Linked DNA regions of Homo sapiens: region 2 is linked to region 1. Evidence: fine-mapped expression QTL. A gene starts in region 1. The other region holds a variant in brackets. All regions are shown on one strand. Distances are from middle to middle. Region 1 holds the start of ATP6V1C2 (ATPase H+ transporting V1 subunit C2). Region 2 overlaps ATP6V1C2 (ATPase H+ transporting V1 subunit C2).

What was found. PIP is the estimated chance that this variant, and not a neighbour inherited with it, causes the effect.
Region 2: its variant is fine-mapped to the expression of ATP6V1C2 in aorta (GTEx, PIP 0.93).

The regions. Positions count from the first base shown.
Region 1 is chr2:10,719,856-10,722,780 of GRCh38, reverse strand. It overlaps ATP6V1C2 (ATPase H+ transporting V1 subunit C2), which reads right to left and starts at 1,151. Exons shown (of 14, transcript NM_001039362.2): 1 at 1,050-1,151.
Region 2 is chr2:10,740,528-10,743,027 of GRCh38, reverse strand. The region is part of intron 3 of ATP6V1C2 (ATPase H+ transporting V1 subunit C2); the gene reads right to left. Among named protein-coding and RNA genes, the nearest start is that of ATP6V1C2, 20 kb to the right of the region's middle. The variant G/A (reference allele first, on the strand shown) is at 1,287.

The sequences.
Region 1 (2,925 bases):
AGAGATGTGTCAGATATCCCCGCCTCACCACTCCCTACCCTCCAATTCATCCTTTCTAGGATGAGCTCCAAGGACATCCATTTGCAAAAGCAAAGCTCTTATCTCCACCTGGGCAGCCCTCAGGTGTTCCCGAAACTCCAAAGCTCCTTGGTCCCTGCAGTGGTTCTGGCTGGTTTTCAGGAGCAGAGGAGGAGGGAGAGGTTCCTTTCTTTCTCTCCACCTCAGTGAACAACCCCTATCAGGCATCATAAAACGGGAGGACAGTAAGCTGGAGGCGGACACCTTCTGGGGGAATATTTGTCTTCCTTCCACACTGCATCTTCTGGGATGCAGGATGGGGTGGAGGAAGGCGTGGGATGAGGAAGGGATTTTCACAACAGGCTACCAGGTCAAACCGCAGGTCAAACTGGCCAACCTTGTGATTGGTATTAGCTTTAAAAATAGACTTCAGAGGATTTTTTTAAATAAGAAAAAAAAAAGTAGTAGGGGGTGAGGGGAACTACTAAAGTCTTTTTTCCACTAGGCGAGGTGCCCGCTCAGCAGTGCTGGGTCCCTTGCCCGGCGTGGCCGGTGGTTTCGCGGCCGCGTCTGCAGCCTCTACGGCCGATTCGATTCGTGCTGCTCCTTCACAGGTGTCCACACCCGCACCTTTCCCCCTCGGCCAGGTTCCCCCTTTCCGCTTGCCTCCCCGCGGCGTCTCCGGACGGCTGGGGGAAAGCAGGATAAGCTCTGAGGAGCCAGAGACCCCTGGTGGAACCTCTTCCTTTCGGACTCCCGGTCCCGCTCCAATCCGAGGGCATTTTGTTCTCTCCTAACCCCGCGCAGACCCAACGCAGCTCCTTTCCGCCTTGACTGCCCATGGCCTGGGGACGAACTGGCCCGCCGCAGCACCTGCGGAGATGCTACCAGCCCGGCCGCGGGGAAGCGCGCGGAGGTGCACGCTGCCCACGTTTCCAATGGGAAAGCGCAGGCTGGTGCGCAGCCGGACCCCGTGCCTGTGTCCCCACCCCGCCCCTGCCTCGGGTCCCCGCTCCGCGGTGCGTCCTTACCGGGAGCCGGCGGGGCGCGGGCCGCGCGGTAGGGGGCTGCGGGCGACGGGCGGCGGGTGCGGGGCCGGAGCGCTCTGCCGGCTCCCGGGAGGCAGCGGCTTCGCTGCCCCGCGCCCCGCCCCGCCTTTTATCCCGGGCTCTGGAGGCGGCCCCGGCCCCGCAGGATATTTGCATACGGGCCGTCCGCCTCCCGCCTCGCTCCAGCCAGGGGCCCGAGAGCCGGGGAGCAGGTGCAGGCGCCGGGCAGGAAGGCGCGGAGGAGACGCGCAGGGTCTCCAGTCCCCTACGCGCGAGGGCCGGGGCCCTGGGGGCTTCTGCGGCGCGTCCCACGGGGTCTCCTGCCGCACGACTGCGCTGCCGCGTCCGGGACGCGTGGACGGCTGAGCCGGGTGGGAGTCGGGAAAAGGCTCTGAGCTCGGGACCACCCCGCCCTCCCGCTGCGGCCGCCGCAGCCCCGCTTGCCCACCCACTCTCGCCTCACAGAGACATGCGCGGATCTCAGGGGAATCACCTACTCCCAGGTGTCTCCAGGCCAGTGCAAGAGACAGGGCCCACCTGTGGGGAGCCGCGCAACAGGTGCGCAGGTGCTCGGGACGCACCTGCGTAGACAGCGAAGCTTTTCCTGTCCGTGTGGGCGCGGGTGTGCGCCCGGTTGCCCAGGAAACTCCCACCTCACCCTCTCCACCTTCCGAATTGCCCTGTGGATGGGGGGTGGGGGGGCGGTTACAACTCACCGTACGACGATCAGAGATGAGTTCATGATCGGTGCTGTCTGGAACCAGGAGGGGGAAACCCTGGAAATTAACGTGTGAAGGTTAAAAACAAGACAAAACCAAAGGAAAACTCGGAGAATTCATTTTCTCTGGACCGAAGGAGAAGGCTTTAAAGCATCCTTCCATGTGGGCGATGTTTTCAGTGGTTTCTGGGAAAGATGAAGATCTCAAGAGTGTCCTTCGAGGGGGCATTGGAGACGGTGTTCTTGCTTCCTTAAACGTGGACTCCCCCTCCTGTGTAAACTAGCCTTATCTATCAACCCATTCTTGTGAATGCATCAGGGTCTTTGGCAGAAGGATTTGACATCATCTGAGACTTAAGCTGTAATCACATAGGGTGGGATGGGAAGCCCCAGAGACGGGACAGAAAGGTGGCTTTAAGATCACAGTGGGGTCGTACTGCCAGCCTAGGTTAGACTTGGAAGTCCCAGCACCTGCAGCAGGCATCGTTATTGGGACACTAATGTGCATTAGTCAGTCCTTGCAACATCTTCCTGAGGGAGGATACCTGAAACCAAGGGATGGGGAAACTCCGGTATGTTTGAGGACATTAAGTGGCTATTCCAGGGAAGGAGTGGCCCAGTTAGACATTAAAGCGGGGTGGTCTCCAATCTTGGACGTTATCCAGGCACGACATTTTATCCAGCCAGGGAAAACATCTTAGAGCTGGGGGCAGATCTCATCTGCAAACAAGGGTGGAGATGCCCACAGAAGTTACGTGAATTGCCCAGTGTCACACAGCTGGTTATGTCAGAGCTACAGTTGGAACTCGGGCCTGTGGCTGAGTCTTATGTCCTTTCTACTGCTCCCAACAAGCCTGCAGGACTAGATAATCAGGGTGAGGAAGAACACATGCTTTCTATTTTAGTCCACATTTTCCCATCTGCAAGGTTCAAAGCCATGGACCTGGCTTCTCAGAGACTGAGCAACACATTTAGAAGTATCTGTGACCTGGCTCGTGGCACCACTCTTTCTATACACCTGGTTACCTGTAAATACTTTGTTTTGTGCCAGGTGTGGTGGCTTACACCTGTAATCCCAGCACTTTGAGAGGCCAGGTGGGCAGGTCACCTGAGATCAGGAGTTCGAGACCAGCCTGACCA
Region 2 (2,500 bases), 20 kb before region 1:
ATCTGGGGAATCCCCAAGGGAAGAAATTGGGTAAGATGGAGTGGGAGGAGTGGGGGGCATTGCCCAGGTGTGAGGCAGGGCAGGTAGGGACTGGAGGCCTTTGGGTGCTGGGCAGGCAGCCTCCAGACACGGGCAAGCTGCGGTGGGGGATCAGGCGAGAAGGGGCCGCCCAGGAGCTTCACAAATCTGCCTGTGGCAGGTCTGTACCGAACGTGCCCTTTCCTTCCTTTCCACAAACACTACGGGGGCACCTCTTAGCCCTGCTGATTTCTAAACCCTGGACCCCAAGGCGTTCAGGGGTGGTAGAATGGCCCTGGGGTAGAGGATGGCTGAAGGGCTTCTATCCCAACGGTGAGGGGGGCTCCTGAGATCTGTCTCCTCTTCTTCCGCACCCACAGCCAGGACATTCCTGCCATGCAGGGCCCCCAGGACTCTTCCAGTCCAGGGGTATGGGGAGAGGAGCAGCCGGCGGGTGCCTAGAAGCCTTGCACCCCAGCAGGAGGGCTGGAATTGGAGGTGAATACTTGAGGCTGCAGATCGCAGGGCCCGAGCAGAGGAGATTCTTATGTAGCCTTAAGACACAGTGTCTCCAGGGTTTCTGCCCTGCAAACTGCACAGGCCGCTCCCTTCTTTGTAGAAGGAAGGGTTGGGTCTCCCACCTCCAGCTCTCCCGCTGAGGAGTAGTGGATACAGGTTCTGAGGATCCTGAGGGCAAGTCTATGCAACACCAAAGAGAAGGCTTTCTCCCTCCCTGGATTTTCTGGAAAATTCTAGCAAACGCAGGATAGAGTTGTTTGGTTGTCAGAAATTACCCAGAAAGGCCAGCGTGGTGACTCACGCCTATAATCCCAGCACTTTGGGAGGCCGAGGTGGGCAGATCGCCTGAGGTCAGGAGTTGGAGACCAGACTGGACAACATGGCCAAACCCTGTCTCTACTAAAAATATAAAAATTAGCTGGGTGTGGTGGTGCGTGCCTGTAATCCCAGCTACTCGGGAGGCTGAGGCAGGAGAACCACTTGAGCCCGGGAAGCGAGATTGCAGCGAGCCAAGATCATGCCATTGCACTCCAGCCTAAGCCACAGGGCGAGACTCCATGGAAGGAAGGAAGGAAGGAAGGAAGGAAGGAAGGAAGGAGGGAAGGAGGGAGGGAGGGAGGAACCCAGATGCCTGGGAAGAGCGCAACCAGGTTACACGGCAGGATCGGAGGGAGGGCATCTGGGAGCTTCTCTTTGCCCCCAGAAAACCACTAAGGATTTATATCTGAATGCTCCACACACAAAGCCAA[G/A]GCCCTTAGAGCTGAGGAAATGGAGTGCACAGAGGCCCAGAAGCTTGCCCCAGGTCACTTCACTGGTGGCCACATGTCAGCTGGTCCTGACCCCCAGCCTTCCCCTAAAGCCAGTCTCCATCCGTGAAAGCAGGTGCTAGCATGCCCGCTCTGGATAACCCAAAACCCCAGGCCCGCCAGTGCCCGGCCACTGTCAGAGTACCTTGATGAGAGGGGCCACCTGCCCTAGCCTCACTCCTGCAGCCACACAAGAGGGGCCCCCACACCTGAGAGGGGAGGCCCAGAAGCTTCCAGGGGGACCCTGTGTTCCCTGCCTCCCCTGGTGACTCAGGAGCCCCTGGGCACCTCACCCCATCCTTTGTCTCTCTACTTCCTCCTCCACCAAGGGACAATGAAATCGTCATGCCCTGCAGCAAAGTCACCAGGAAAATGTGACTCCACAGCAATTAAGTGATTTTCTTTTCACAAAAACAAAGGTCCAGTGAGGCTCACTAGGAGGCTCCCCCTGGGGACTCTGGACACAGACACACCATGCTTTAAATTCCAACTTGGCTTCACAGAAACTGGAAGTTTAAATAACGAGCTGATCTTTAGCTCTTTAGAGGGGCTCCCCTCTGCATACAGTTGTGTAGAGCCACCCAGCAAAGTTACTCTTGTCACTAAGAACGGAATTCTCATTGGCCAAGCTGGCATTATAGAGTCACCCACATGCGGTCCAGACAGTAATGCTCTACCCTCTTCAAAAAGCCAATTTCAGCTGGGTGTGGTGGCTCACGCCTGTAATCCCAGCACTTTGGGAGGCCAAGGCGGGCGGATCACCTGAGGTCGGGAGTTTGAGACCAGCCTGGCCAACATGGTGAAACCCCGTCTCTACTAAAAATGCAAAAATTAGCCGGGCCTGGTGGCACACATCTATAATCCCAGCTACTTGGGAGGCTGAGGCAGCAGAATCACTTGAACCTGGGAGGCAGAGGTTGCAGTGAGCTGACACAGCGCCACTGCACTCCAGCCTGGGCGACAAGAGTGAGATTTGGTCTCAAAAAATGAAAAAGAAAGTTTTCCCCTTGGAAGGAACAGGTAAGGAGGACCTGAACTCAGCTCCCAGAGAAGTGTTGCTGAAATCCCCTGGGGCCTACAGTCTTTTAGGAATCACTGGGCAATCCCCCAAGCATTTGGGATAGAAAGAAACATCACACATTGAAGTTCTGGAGACT